Homo sapiens: one gene and its partners. The protein of the gene in region 4 purifies or fractionates together with the protein of the main gene of each other region. This does not show direct contact. Each region holds a gene or a part of one and is shown on either strand. Other genes may lie near its edges.

The links. Proteins that work in one complex are often made in the same cells at the same time.
Region 1: the proteins of TYRO3 (region 4) and PTDSS1 purify together in Homo sapiens (affinity purification with mass spectrometry; one large-scale study listed by BioGRID and IntAct). This does not show direct contact.
Region 2: the proteins of TYRO3 (region 4) and HSD17B12 purify together in Homo sapiens (affinity purification with mass spectrometry; one large-scale study listed by BioGRID and IntAct). This does not show direct contact.
Region 3: the proteins of TYRO3 (region 4) and NCAM1 purify together in Homo sapiens (affinity purification with mass spectrometry; one large-scale study listed by BioGRID and IntAct). This does not show direct contact.

Annotation. Positions count from the first base shown.
Region 1 is NC_000008.11:96,299,902-96,303,401, forward strand, and holds part of PTDSS1 (phosphatidylserine synthase 1), read left to right. Parts: intron 1-3,500. UniProt on the Homo sapiens protein: Catalyzes a base-exchange reaction in which the polar head group of phosphatidylethanolamine (PE) or phosphatidylcholine (PC) is replaced by L-serine. Catalyzes mainly the conversion of phosphatidylcholine.
Region 2 is NC_000011.10:43,809,738-43,813,237, forward strand, and holds part of HSD17B12 (very-long-chain 3-oxoacyl-CoA reductase), read left to right. Parts: intron 1-3,500. UniProt on the Homo sapiens protein: Catalyzes the second of the four reactions of the long-chain fatty acids elongation cycle. This endoplasmic reticulum-bound enzymatic process, allows the addition of two carbons to the chain of long- and very long-chain fatty acids/VLCFAs per cycle.
Region 3 is NC_000011.10:113,205,920-113,209,419, reverse strand, and holds part of NCAM1 (neural cell adhesion molecule 1 isoform 2 precursor), read right to left. Parts: intron 3,378-3,500; coding exon 3,240-3,377; intron 2,160-3,239; coding exon 2,042-2,159; intron 1,588-2,041; coding exon 1,418-1,587; intron 1-1,417.
Region 4 is NC_000015.10:41,576,212-41,579,711, reverse strand, and holds part of TYRO3 (tyrosine-protein kinase receptor TYRO3 isoform 1 precursor), read right to left. Parts: exon of another isoform or gene 3,447-3,500; intron 1,827-3,446; coding exon 1,436-1,826; 3' UTR 1-1,435. UniProt on the Homo sapiens protein: Receptor tyrosine kinase that transduces signals from the extracellular matrix into the cytoplasm by binding to several ligands including TULP1 or GAS6. Regulates many physiological processes including cell survival, migration and differentiation.

The DNA of each region.
Region 1 (3,500 bases), on a different chromosome or scaffold from region 4:
GTTTTGGTAGGAATCCATTTTAGTATGATCTTTGATGATAAGGAATAAATTCCATGTTAATAACTGAAACTCATAAATGATTATAAACCTGATTTCAAGCATTTGTCCAGAAAATGCTCAATCATTTATGATTTTCTCTCTCTCACCCTATGTATTCAGGGGGTCCTAACACCATCCTCCTAATTCAAAAGATTTCTGAAATCCACCCCCACTCTTTTTTATCCCGACTGCCTCAGCCTTCATTCAGACTCCCATCCCTGGATCAATTCATCTCTGTTTCCAGGTTAAGTCCTCCAGTCCTTCCCACACCATTGCTTGAGTGATCTTTTTAAGAACATCAGATTCATCATGTCATTGCCCTGTGATGGCTTCTCATGGTCTTTGGTCATGGTCAATACATCCATTACCCCAGTAGGGAGATCCTTTCTCTACACCCTCCCAGGCAACCGAGAGTCTGTTTGTGCACACGCTCCCCTCTCTTCACCTGAGATTTGGCCTGTGTACCCATAGGCCAGCCTGATCATCCTTTTCTTTGCTGACTTAGCTCACTTGCCACCCAGGAAGTTCTCTGAATAGTTTTAAGTTGCATACCCCACTATGCTTCCAGTAGAGGACAGTCATACCGCCGGCATTGCTTTATCCTGCTTTGTTAAACTTGCTTCTCATTTTGCAGCACGAATCATGCCATTGATAAGGAAGAATAATGGTACTGATAATGAAAGTTGTGGTTGCTTCAATTGTGTTTAAAACTTTGTTTACTCTATATAACAAAATAGCATTTTCCCACATCATTAAATATTCTTCTAAAACATGATTTTAAAGGGCTTCTTTGTACTTCAACATATGGATAAACCATGTAGTATTTAACCAGTTCCATTTTATGGTCCTTTAGTTGTTTCAAAGTTTTTGCTTTCATAAAGAAGACTGGAGTGATCATTCTTGGACATATATCTTAGTGTGCATCGCCTTTTTTTTGGTAAATAAATTCTTAGAAATAGAGTGTACCAATTTGTAATCTCACCTATAATATATATGTATATCCATTTCACTATTTCCTTGAACTTCATTTTTAAACCTTTGTCAAATTTATCACACATAAAATTGTGTGATACTGGATTTCTATCAATTTCTATTGGATTTACCCTCTTTTATTTGTGCTTTCTACAGATTAAGCTAATTAACACTTTGCCATAAATGTGACTTTATTTTCCATTTTGTCACCCCCTTTTTTTTTGTTTGTTTTATTGAGATGGAGTCTTGCTCTGTCACCCAGGCTGCAGTGCAGTGGTACAATCTCGGCTCGCTGCAGCCTCCGCCTCTCAAGTAGCTGGGACTTCAGGCGCGTGCCACCACGCCTGGCTAGTTTTTGTTTTTAGTAGAGATGGGGTTTCACCATGTTGGCCAGGCTGGTCTCGAACTCCTGACCTCAGGTGATCACCCGCCTCAGCATCTCAAAGTGTTGGGATTACAGGCGTGAGCCACTGTGCCCAGCCTGTCATCCCCTTTTAAACTAGTTTGTGGTGGATTTTTTATTTAAACATCAAAAATACTGTTAATCTTTTTGTTTAGGTAAATATTAACCAGTATTTTCTTCTAGTTCTTTTGTTTTTTTGTTTGTTTGTTTTTGTTTTTTTTGAGATGGAGTTTCACTCTTGTTGCCCAGGCTGGAATGCAATGGCACAATCTCGGCTCACTGCAACCTCCGCCTCCCAGGTTCAAGCGATTTTCCTGCCTCAGCCTCCCGAGTAGCTGGGATTAGCCACCACGCCCGGCTAACTTTTTTTTTTGTATTTTAGGAGAAACGGGGTTTCTCTGTGTTGGTCAGGCTGGTCTCGAACTTCTGACCTCAGGTGATCCGCCCGCCTCAGCCTCCCAAAGTTCTGGGATTACAGGCGTGAGCACCGTGCCCAGCCTTTCTTCTAGTTCTTTAGTGGTTTTACTTGTTTTAAGTATTTAATCTGTCTCAAATTTATTTTGGTATATGATGTGAGGAGGAGATTTCACAATGTTTTTGCCATTGGTTAACCAGTTTTCCCCATCCCTTTTATTACTAAACCTTTCTTTGGTCACTGACTTGCAAGGACACTTTTTAATATATTTAATTTTAATTCTAATTTTTATGTATTTGTTTTTTTGAGACAGAGTCTTGCTCTGTCACCCAGGCTGGAGTGCAGTGGTGCAATCTCAACTCACTGCAGTCTCCACTTCCCGGGTTTAAGCAGTTCTCCTGCATCAGCCTCCCCAGTGCCTGTAATCCCCAGGTGGGATTACAGGCATGCACCACCACACCCAGCTAATTTTTGTATTGTTAGTAGAGACAGGGTTTCTCCATGTTGGCCAGGCTAGTCTCGAACTCCCAACCTCAGGTGATCTGCCTTACTCGGCCTCCCAAAGTGCTGGGATTACAGGTATGAGCCACCATGCCCAGCCACTTTTTAATATATTTAAGGCAGCATTTAACCTAATAAAAATAGTAGCCATGCTTCAAGTATTGCTCCAAGCAAGCTTCACAAGCAATATCTCATTTGAGCCTTGAATCAGTCCTGAGGGTAGACACTGTTATTCTCTTCAGTTTAGGAATGATGTGATACTGAGGCTTAGGTTTAGTAATTTGCCTAAGGACACACAGCTAGCAAGCAGCTGAGTCTGAATTTGCACCAGGATGTCTGCTTTCCTTGTTGTTGTTGTTGTTGTTTTTGAGGCATAGTCTCACTCTGTCGCCTAGGCTGGAGTGCAGTGGCACAATCTTGGCTCACTGCAACCTCTGTCTCCCAGGTTCAAGTGATTCTCCTGCCTCAGCCTCCCAAATAGCTGGGACTGCAGGCACCCGCCACCACACCTGGCTAATTTTTGTATTTTTAGTAGAGACAGGGTTTCACCATGTTGGCCAGGCTGATCTCAAACTCCTGACCTCAAGTGATCTGCCGGCCTCAGCCTCCCAAAGTGCTGGGATTAGAGGCATGAGCCACCATGCCTGGCCTCAGGATGTCTGCTTTCTTGAACACTGCTACAGTATACTTCCTTGTTTTCTTATGTTTATTCTTGAAATTTGACTTCAGAATCATTTTGTCAAGTTCCCACGACATAAACCCAACTAATAAACAACAACAAAAAATCCTATTGGTGGTTTTTTTAAAGTAATATTAAATGTATAAATGAATACAGATTAAGTTGAATTAACCTCTTTGCTGTATTAAATATTCTGATTCTTGATCACGCTGCATCTCTCTTTATTCCCATTTTCTTCTCAGTCTTTCTATGCACTTTGCTATTTTTACAGTACAAGTCTTTTGTAGTTCTTGTTTATTTTTGGATAGTCTCTATTTTTTGCTGCCAGTGTGCCGCAGATCTTCTTGCTGTGATGTTTTCTCAATACGAGTTTGTTGGTGGATAGGTGGGTGGATGAAGGAACAGCCCTGGTTTCCTATCACTCTCCCTGCTCCCACCCACTAGAACGGAAGGCCTGACTGGTTGGTGCTTGTGCCTCCAACCACTTAGCA
Region 2 (3,500 bases), on a different chromosome or scaffold from region 4:
TGAACCCAGGAGACGGATTGCAGTGAGCTGAGATCGAGCCATTGCACTCCAGCCTGGGCAACATGAGCGAAATTCTGTCTCAAAATAAGTAAATAAATAAGCAAATAAATAAATAAGATGTCTTTTTATTAACTCTAAGTGCTGGAACTGGATTAGCATTTATAACCACAAATGTTAGTGAAATATAAACTTTTTCTCCTTTGATACAATGAGAAGGAAACAGGAGGGGTTACTTTGCATTATTTGATGTATGTCGGGAAGCCCGGCCATTAGGCAACATATTTTTAAACCACCTTAATTTCCTATATCTCTGATTAATCTGGAAAAAGAAACAGGTTGAAGGTGATCTGTAGGGGGTTACCCGTATCTGTTAGAATTGTTTGTTCAAATGGATTTTTAATTTCTAGTAATTTATTGTTGTTTGCTCCTCTCTCACGCCTAACCCAGATACCAAAAATCTAATTTTCTGATGACATCATTATATCTCTATAGCAGCTGGCTTTGAGAGAGGATTCTAAGTTCAGTGAGATCAGCAGCAAACGAACTTAGAAGAAACAGAAATCTTGTAAATATTCTTTTTTTAAGAGCATAAAATTTGGAAATGATTTTAAAGCAGTATAATTTAGAAATTATATATATATATATATATATATATATATATATATAAAATTCAGAATTATTCCGTGGATTTTCTGTGTCTTTAAAATGCAACACATAATGATATTAGTGTTTTCTGAGGTTCTGGATGGGGGCCGAGGAGAGCGTAGCTAAGCATGGCCTATGTCAGTTCTTCTCTGCAAGGATCAACTCTTAAGAGGATGGCTCCTCTGCCCTCCACCACCTTTTCTTTCCACTTCCTTTGGCATTATTCTTGGTCTGTTTTCACCTCTGTTCTCTGCCTGCCTCATCTCTTTTATTGAGCGCTTCCCAGTCTTAGACCTCTAGTCAGAAACCAATGGGAAAGATTTTGTTACTGTCCAGCACCCTACAGTGACTGGGATGGTGGTGGGAATTCCATGATGACATAGATATCTGTTGTTTCCTGAGAGACATCATGTGTTGTTACACAATAAAAAGGTTTTTCACTGAAAAAAATGTTTAAATCTGTCTCTAGTGCCTCACTTCAAGAATTCAAGAAAACTCACTAATAAACATGTTTAATGCTAATTTAAGATGCGACCATTTAGAAGGGATCTTCAACTATCTGAATAATGTTGGAGCAACATGTGCCATTGTTTGGTTTGGCGAATCCTATAATGAATCCTGTAATATGTAAAGATGGCATTGCGTGCACCCATTCTTAATGAGATTATATTATAATGGGAGTATTTCCATCCTTCACTCCTACTCAAAGCCTGTTCTTTCTCTTCCTTTTGCAATTCCCTGAAAGCTTTCTGCCTGCTGTTAGGTTATTGCTGCCACCTGACGTCTCAAAATAAAATTGCCGTGGGTTTGCTTTTCCAAAAGATTCGCACTATTCTGCATTTTATGGAAATAACTATTTGAGAGCAACAGTTTTTTCTCTATACTCCTAAATAAGAGCATTCTGAAGTGATTACTTATGGTGGGGAGATTATGGGTATCATTCATTCCACAAGCAAAAGGTGGAACTAATAGTACAGGAGGGAATGTAGGAGTCCTAATCCCTAGAATAGGACAAATCGCCATTGTGACCTTGGTGTGTACTTCACCTCATAAAATTGGACTCAGTGCTCTTAACAGCCTTATTCCAGCTTTAACATTGTTTTATTGTGTGTACTTTTATTTATGAAAACATAGCCCTTCTCCGTGATACTATTTACTTTTTTGGACTAAAGTTCTCAGTGTTGAACAGGTTTTCTCTCTTTTTTTTAACAGATACATAATATTTCTACATATTTATAGGATACATGTGATATTTTATTACATGCATAGGATGTGTAATGATCATGTCAGGGTGGCTGAAGTATCTGTCACTTTGAGTATCATTTCTATGTGTTGGGAACATTAAAAGACCTCTCTTCTAGCCATTTTGAAATATACAATACATTGTTGTTAACTATAGTCACCCTACTCTGCTATTGAACATTAGAACTTATTCCTTCTATCTAACTATATGTACCCACTAACCATCCTCTCTTCATCCCTCACCCACCCACACACACCTGCCCCACCTTCTGGTATCTATTATTCTACTCTCTACCTCCATGAGACCAACTTTTTTAGCTCCTACATATGAATGAGAACATGCAATATTTGTCTTTCTGTGCCTGGCTTATCTCACTTAACACAGTGACCTCCAGTTCCATCCATGTTGCTATAAATTACAGGATTTTATTCTTTTCATGGCCAAATAGTATTTTATTGTGTATATATACTAAATTTTTCTTTATCTATTTATTTGTTGATGGACACTTAAGTCAATTCCTTATCTTTGCTATTGTGAATGATGCTGCAATAAACACGGGGGTGCAGGTATCTATTTGATATACTGATTTATTTTCCTTTGGATAAATACTAGTAGTGGGATTGTTGGATCATGTGATAGTTCTATTTTTAATATTTTGAGAAACCTCCATACTGTTTTCCACAGTGGCTATACTAATTTACATTCCCACCAACAGTGGATAAGAATTCTGCTTTCTCTGCGTCCTTGCCAGCATCTGTTATTTTTTGGCTTTTTAATAACAGCTACTCTAACTGGGGTAAGATGATATCTCATTGTCATTTTGATTCAGATTTCTGTGATGATTGGTGATGAGCATTTTTTCATTTATCTGCTGGCCATTTGTATGTCTTCTTTTGAGAAATATCTATCCATATCCTCAGCCCACTTTTTAATAAGTTTTCTTGTTTTTTAAACTATTCAGTTGTTTGAGTTCTTTGTATATTCTAGATATTAGTCTCTTGTCAGATGGATAGTTTGCAAATATATTCTTCCATTCAACAGGTAGTCTCTTCACTCTGTTGATTATTTCCTTTGCTGTGCAGATGCTTTTTGGTTGAATATGTTTTCTTATAGAGCTATGTTAAATAGATGTTCACATTTTCATTGTGTGAATAAATAGCTTTGATAGCTTTCCTTTGCTCAATTATCAGAGACACAGCTGAAGACTCTCTATTGTTTGTTTTTGTTTTTGTTTGAGACAGAGTCTCCCTCTGTCACCCATGCTGGAGTGCAGTGGCGTGATCTCGGCTCACTGCAACCTTCGCCTCCTGGGTTCAAGCAATTCTCCTACCTCAGCCTCCCGAGTAGCTGGGACTACAGGCACGTGCCATCGTGCCTGGCTAATTTTTTGTATTTTTAGTAGAGATGGGGTTTCACCGTGTTAGCCAGGATGATCTAGATCTCCTGACCTCGTGATCCGCCTGCCTCAGTCTCCCAAAGTGCTGGGATTACAGGCGTGAGCCACCACGCCTGGCAACTCTCTATTGTTAATACAGTCATAACCAGAATAACACTTCTCTGCTTGCTTAGTTATTCAGGGACTTCCTTTGCTTAACTTTGTACTTATAGTACA
Region 3 (3,500 bases), on a different chromosome or scaffold from region 4:
AGACTTTCAAGAATATTTTTCATGAAGTTTAGCTTTCTCTCTCAAATACGTACGGTTAACTTGAACCTAACTGATAGCCTGTTTCTAAACCCAGCTGTTTACTACTGAATAACTAGCAGGACATTTGCATATAAAGTCTTGATTTTCAAAGGTCTGTGTTTATGAACAGTTCTCCTTATCAGGCTGGATAAGCAGGTCCCAACCCTGATTCCCAGGTGCACATTTTAATGACCTGGGGGCTCCATGCACCAGAGCTGCGCCTCAGACTGGCACTTCCCCAGTGCTGTCTACAGTAGACCAGTTTATCTGTGTTTTCTAAACAGACACGCGGAGAGACTTGAGGGCCATTAGGTTAAACGTTTCTCTGCAACCAATTCTTTTTTCAAGATCAGGTCAAAATGCTTTTCAGTTCTGAAATGAATGGAAGTTTCCTGAGTTTATGAAGATGAAGTGAGCAGGGATGTGGGGGCTCTTCCATGACACTGTTTTGCACAGGTCAGGGAAGGAGGCAAACAAGGCAAAGCAGCCAGCCCATCGACCACTAAAGTTACCAAGGGCCTATGCCAAGTCTGGCACTGTTTGGAGTCACAGGGATAACGCCGTGTATGACAGCCAGGGTTATGCTATCTTGAAGTTTACACACTAGTAGAGGTAGGAGACAGACAATCCCCAAAACAAATATGCAAATGACATCTGTTCAGGTACTGTTAAGTACAGCAAAGAAGATACAGTAAGAGTCACGAGAGAGAGATGAGTGGAGGTGGGTGGGGGTGGTCGCAGTGCAGAGGGAGTTGAATTAGCCAGGGCAGTGAAGGAAGGCGCCGCTGAGAAGGTGAGTTTGAGTTAAGATCTGAATGGTGGATCAGAAGAAGGCAGCTCAGAGTGGATCAGAGGGAAAGATATTCCAAGCAGAAGAGAAACCTAGGGCAGTGATCCTGAGATGAAGAACAAGCTTGGTATGTCTGAGGGACATGAAGAAGGCCTGTGTGGTTGGAGAACTTTGCATGTGCAGCAAAGCGAAAGAAAGATGAGGCTGGAGAAGAAGGCAGGAGCTAGTTCATCTCTGGTCTTGTAGGCCATTGCAGGGAGTCTGAATTTTATTCTGGTTGCCATAGGGAGCCACTGGAGGCTTTCAAACAGATGAGTGGTACTTAGGTCATTCTGACTACTGTGAGCAGAAGTGAATGAAGTGGACCAATAGGGAGAGTCGGGGAGGCCAGCTATGAGACCGTCCCACTGCTCAGGTGAGGATGATGGTGGCTTGGACTAGGGCTTGGACTAGGTGGTGGAACTGGCAAGAAATGGTTGCATTGGGTTATGTTCTGAGGGACAGTGGCCAGGGTCTTACTGATGGACTGAATGTGCAGAGGAAGGGGAATTGTGGCAGAGCAGTGACCTGGGCCCCCACTGCCCCTACCAAAGACTTTGAGGTGGATGGTCGCATCCTGCTCGCCAGCCTTGTTCTCAGCAATGCAGATGTACTCAGCCTCGTCGTTCTTATCCACCTTTTTGATGGTCAGCTGGGAACTATCGTCGCTGAAGATGTACTTCTCATCGTCTTCCTCTTGCTCTATCTGTTCCCCATCCCTAGAGCATGTAGAAATGCAAAGTAGCATGATTTCGACCACAGAAATAAGACGTTTATTTTTAATTAGGTTCCATAGAATGCAGACTGAGTCAATGGGAAAGACTCCTCAGTCTTCACAAAAAGTTAAGGCACCAAGTTGAACGTCCACATACACCTCTTATTCCTCTATTCCATCCTCTGACTATCCAAGGGCTGCAACTGTACCCACAAATGTTTCAAAGTGGGCTCCCAAGACCACACCCTCTGGCTCTGACTCTGCCCCCACAAGGCTGAAATTGAAGGAATAATCAATGCACAAGCAAGAGAATCTTATAGAAAAGAGTCCATTCTTCTCCTGGGGTTAATATTCCTAAGAAGCCCACATCCATTCCACGCAGACACTAACATGGAGCAGACTTTGTGATGCCCCATTCTCCTCTAGTCCATGATAAAAGGTATGAGCCAGTTTCTTACTTTGTCCAGCTCATGGTGGGCTCTGGGAAGCCTTCGGCATCGCACACCAGGGTGACGGACTGGCCGAGGTTGGCGGTGGCATTCACAATATTCTGCCTGGCCTGGATGGTAGGTGGCACTGAAGGAAAAAAGGGTGTCATGGGGTGGTTGTGAAAATTTGGAAGAACCCAATGGCCTGGAGAAGAGACACCACTCCAGGTCAGGAGTTCTCAGCCTGTGGGACAAACGTCGTGTGCAGCTACAGAGTTAGTGTCAGGAATTGAAATTCATGTATGTACTAAATAACTTCTGCAAACTGAATAGACAGTTCTACAAACATGCATTTTTGTTTTTCATTAATTGAGAAGCTATAGTAATACATTTTATGCATGTTAAGATGGTATTCAATTTATAGTCACTATTCTTCATTATGTATTTTCTCAGTCAATGCATACTAAACTTAATAACTACCAGGTTCAGTGAAACTTGATGTTAAAAAGGAGCTCTTTGTACTGGAAAAAGTTGGACATTACTGCTCCCAGTGGTTAAATGGTTAACACCAATTCGAATGCATCAGCTATAACAAAGAGTGCCATTTCTCTGGGACTGTGATAAACAACCTTGTACAAAACTGTTTTTTACCAAAGGAATGAGATGGGGAGAGTTTGGCAAAAAAAATATGTGTCAATAGTCAAAACAATTCAACCCTGATTTACTTATTTTCTTAGTACTGACATTATAATTTCCTGTAAACATCTTGTAAATGTCAGATCAATTCCATGGGTGTGTTTATTTGACACTGCAAGTTAAGATTAACAAGCCTATGGACCATGATTCTGACTATTCTGAGGCCTGAGTTGACTTAATACTTTCTTTGAACATTTAAGCAGCGGAATAACTTCACAATTATGGTAACATCAAGGACAATGAGGATTAATAGGTAAGCAGGGGGAAAGTTTTTAGTGCTGCAGAACGGTGAAGGACATTCAGTTGCTGCACTAAAATCCCTCGTAGTTGAAGGAAGATCCAACAGGCAAGTATATTAAAAAAAAAAAAAAAAAGAAATCTAGATGTTACGGTGGGGAGGGGATTTAGCTCAGACGGATGATTGAGTCAGGACAGGATTTAATTTACAGACCCAAGAGGAAGTTAAAGAGAATGATTTTGGAGAACCAAGGTTGTAGCAATGCAGAGATCAGGAAGAACGGACTCTCCTCACCATTCACAATGACCTGAATGTCCTTGAAGTTGATCTCCCCCCGTGCCAGGATTCTGCCCTCACAGCGATAAGTGCCCTCATCTGTTTTCTTGATGCCCCGGATCTGCAGGTAGTTGTTGGACAGGACTATGAATCGGACTAGAAGAGATAAGAGGCAGGTTCATCCAAGAATCAGTCAGAGAGCATCTGCAGGCAGGTGGCTGAGTCTCTTTCCTTTTTCCTAACTTCAGTATCATAGGGTGGGGTTTTAAGCCCAAATAA
Region 4 (3,500 bases):
TCTATAAAAATCTTTCATCTTTGTGATCTCAAAAAAAGTAAACATTTAAGAGACAAAGCTGGGGCCAGGTGTGGTGGCTCAGGACTGTAATCCCAGCACTTTGGGAGGCCAAGGCAGGCAGATCACTTGAGGTCATGAGTTCAAGACCACCCTGGCCAACATGGCGAAACCACATCTCTACTAAAAATACAAAAATTACCTGGGCATGGTAGTGAGCCCCTGTAATCCCAGCTACTCTGGTGACTGAGGCACAAGAATCGCTTGAACCCAGGAGGCAGAGGTTGCAGTGAACCAAGATCACACCATGCACTCCAGCCTGGGCAACACAGTGAGACTGTCTCAAAAAAAAAGAAAAAAAAAAAGAGACAAAACCTTAGGTCTTTAGTCTTCAATTTTATTTCTATTTTAAACAGCAACTAACAGCTTGGAAATGTCCCTAACAGCTAGGACCCGCCCCATGCATTCCAGAGGCTCCCCCACCAAGGCTGGGGTCCAGGTTCCAGGAATTCCCCCTCATCAGGCCTGATTTCTCTCTGGAGACTTGGGACAGAAGAGGCTGTCCAGTTAGAGGGGAAGTTGGCACTAAAGGTCACCGTTTAGAAGGGTTGGGCTCAGACACAGCTGCCTTTGTTAGTCTTAGGATATTTTGAGATTTGGTAGCGTGCTCAGATTGTGGGTATGGAGAAGGGTTCCTGAACTCCTCTCCGGCCTCACTTGCTCCTGGGCAAGCCTCACAGCACCCCTTCCTCTTGCTGGCTCGGCACGCTGCCTTTGGAAGAGGGGCACCTGATAGGCTGGGTACTCCAGCATGCCTTTGTGTGACCCGGTCAGCTGCAGGGAAGCATGCTCCCCTCAACTTCTCCTGGCGTAGGCAGGGTGCGGAATCAGAAAGATGGTGAAGATTCAGACCTGAGATACCAACCCCTTACCAACCCTCACCTAAAAGGGAATATTACAAGGACATCTCTTTGTGACTTGGAGGGGCACACCTGGATATTTAAACCCCAAGTGTGGTAATAGCTGGGCCACCAGGCTGGAGGCAGCTCAATGCATGCACTTAAGCAGCAGGGGCAGCTCAGCAGGAGGGTAGGGCCCACAGAGCTGGACCTGCCCTCCCCACACTGCCATCCACACCCATGGTAACCATGGAAACATAACCACCCCACTCCTGCCAGCTGCCTGGGTTCAGACAACCAGGACTGGCCCACTTCCATCAAGCCAAGGCCTAAACTGATGCCAGGCTGGCCACAGAGTGGTTGCAGGAAGAACTGGGATTGGGTGATTTGGTCAGTCCGGGCTTCCCAGCACAGCTTGGGAGGACTACCACAGGAGCCTCCACACCTTGCTGTCTGGGCTGGGGTCAGACGGGGCTTAGTCAGCCAGCTCAGTGGCCACCAGAGCCGGCCAAATGGCCCCGATGCCCTCTGCCTGTGGGCTAACAGCTACTGTGTGGCAGTAGCCCTTGCTGCAGCAGCAAAAGCCTCTGTGTCTCATTGAGGGGACTCTCTGGCTGGTGCTCTGCCTGCCCTGGCTGCTCAGCCAGCCCTCCGGGGGTGAGTATGTACCGACAGTCACTGGGAGTGCCACCCACTGCCCCCATGCCACTGCCATCCCCAGCCCCACTGTAGGGCTGATCCCTGCCAGGTAGCTCCAGGCTGCCTCCCGCAGTGGGCTCCTCAGCTCTCTCGATGTTGATGTATAAGGGGTCCTGGCTGGCAGATAGCACAGACAGCTGGCCCAAGATGTTCTCCAGTTCCATTCGCAGACAAGTAAAGCTCGGGCGCTGCTTGGGGTCAGCACTCCAGCACTGGTACATGAGATCATACCTGGGGTGGAGAGAAGCGTGAGAAAAGGCAGGAGCCCTTCCCTCAAAAGCAGGGGCCCCTTCATCATATGGCACTAGGGTTTTAAAAAATTTTATTCCCTGGTGGGGCACAGCGGCTCGCATCTGTAATCTCAACACTTTGGGAGGCCGAAGGGGGGTATTATTTGAGCCCAGGAGTTCGAGACCAGCCTGGGCAATATGGCAAAACCCTGTCTCTATAATAATACAAAAATTAGCCAGGCTTGGTAGACACGCCTGTAGTCCCAGCTACTCGGAAGGCTGAGGTGGGATCACCTTGGGAGGCCAAGGCAGGCAGATCACCTGAGGTCAGGAGTTCGAGACCAGCCTGACCAACATGGAGAAACCCCATCTCTACTAAAAATACAAAAAAAAATTAGCCCAGCATGGTGGCACATTCCTGTAATCCCAGCTACTTGGGAGGCTGAGGCAGGAGAATCGCTTGAACCCAGGAGGTGGAGGTTGCGGTGAGCCGAGATTGCACAATTGAACTCCAGCCTGGGCAACAAGAGTGAAATTCCATCTCAAAATAAATAAACAAACAAATAAATTAATTAAATTAAATAAATAAAAAATATATTTGTAGAGACAGGGTCTTGCTATGTTGCTCAGGCTGGTCTCAAACTCCTGGCCTCTAGTGATCCTCCCACCACAGCTTCCTGAGTAGCTGGGATTACAGGCACATCCTAGCTTATTATTTCTCACAACAACCCTATGAAAGCAATGATCAAATAGAAATCATTTCCACATTTACAAATGTGGAAACATGCACAAAGAGGTTAAGAACCGTGACTAAAGTCACACACGTGGAAAGTGACAGAGCTGTGATTTGAAGCGAGGGGGTTGACTCCGAAGTCCCTCCTGTGCTGAGTGGGCAGTACCTACTCAGTAATTCCTCACCGTGCAGCCGGACACAGTGGTATGCACCTGTAGTCCCAGCTACTCAGGAGGCTGAGGCTAAAAGATCCTTTGACCCCAGGAGTTCGAGACTAGTCTGGACAACATAGCGAGACCATGTCTCTATTAAAAAAAAAAATTAATAAGCAAGGTATGGTGGTAAGTACCTGTAATCCCAGCTACTAGGGAGGCTGGGCAGAAGATCTCTTGAACCCAGGGGTTTGATGCTACAGTGAGCTGTGATTGCATTACTGCACTCCAGCCTGGCTGTCAGAGCGAGGCCCTTTCTCTTTTTTTTTTTTAAAAAAAAAAAAAAAAAAAAAAAAGGAAACCTACTGAATCAGGCCAGGTGCAGTAGCTCATGCCTGTAATCCCAGCACTTTGGGAGGCCGAAGCAGGTGGATCACTTGAGGTCAGGAGTTCGAGTCCAGCCTGGCCAACATGATGAAACCCCGTGTCTACTAAAAAATACAAAAATTGGTTGGGCAAGGTGGCACACACCTGTCATCCCAGCCCTTTGGGAGGCCAAGGTGGGCAGATCACCTGAGGTCGGGAGTTTGAGACCAGCCTGATCAACATGGAGAAACCCCGTCTCTACTAAAAATACAAAATTAGCTGGGCAGGGTGGTGCATGCCTGTAATCCCAGCTACTCAGGAGACTGAGGCACGAGAATCGCTTGAATCCAGGAGGTGGAAGTTGTGGTGAGCCAAGATTGTGCCATTGCACTCCAGCCTGGGCGACAAGAGCAAAACTCCATTT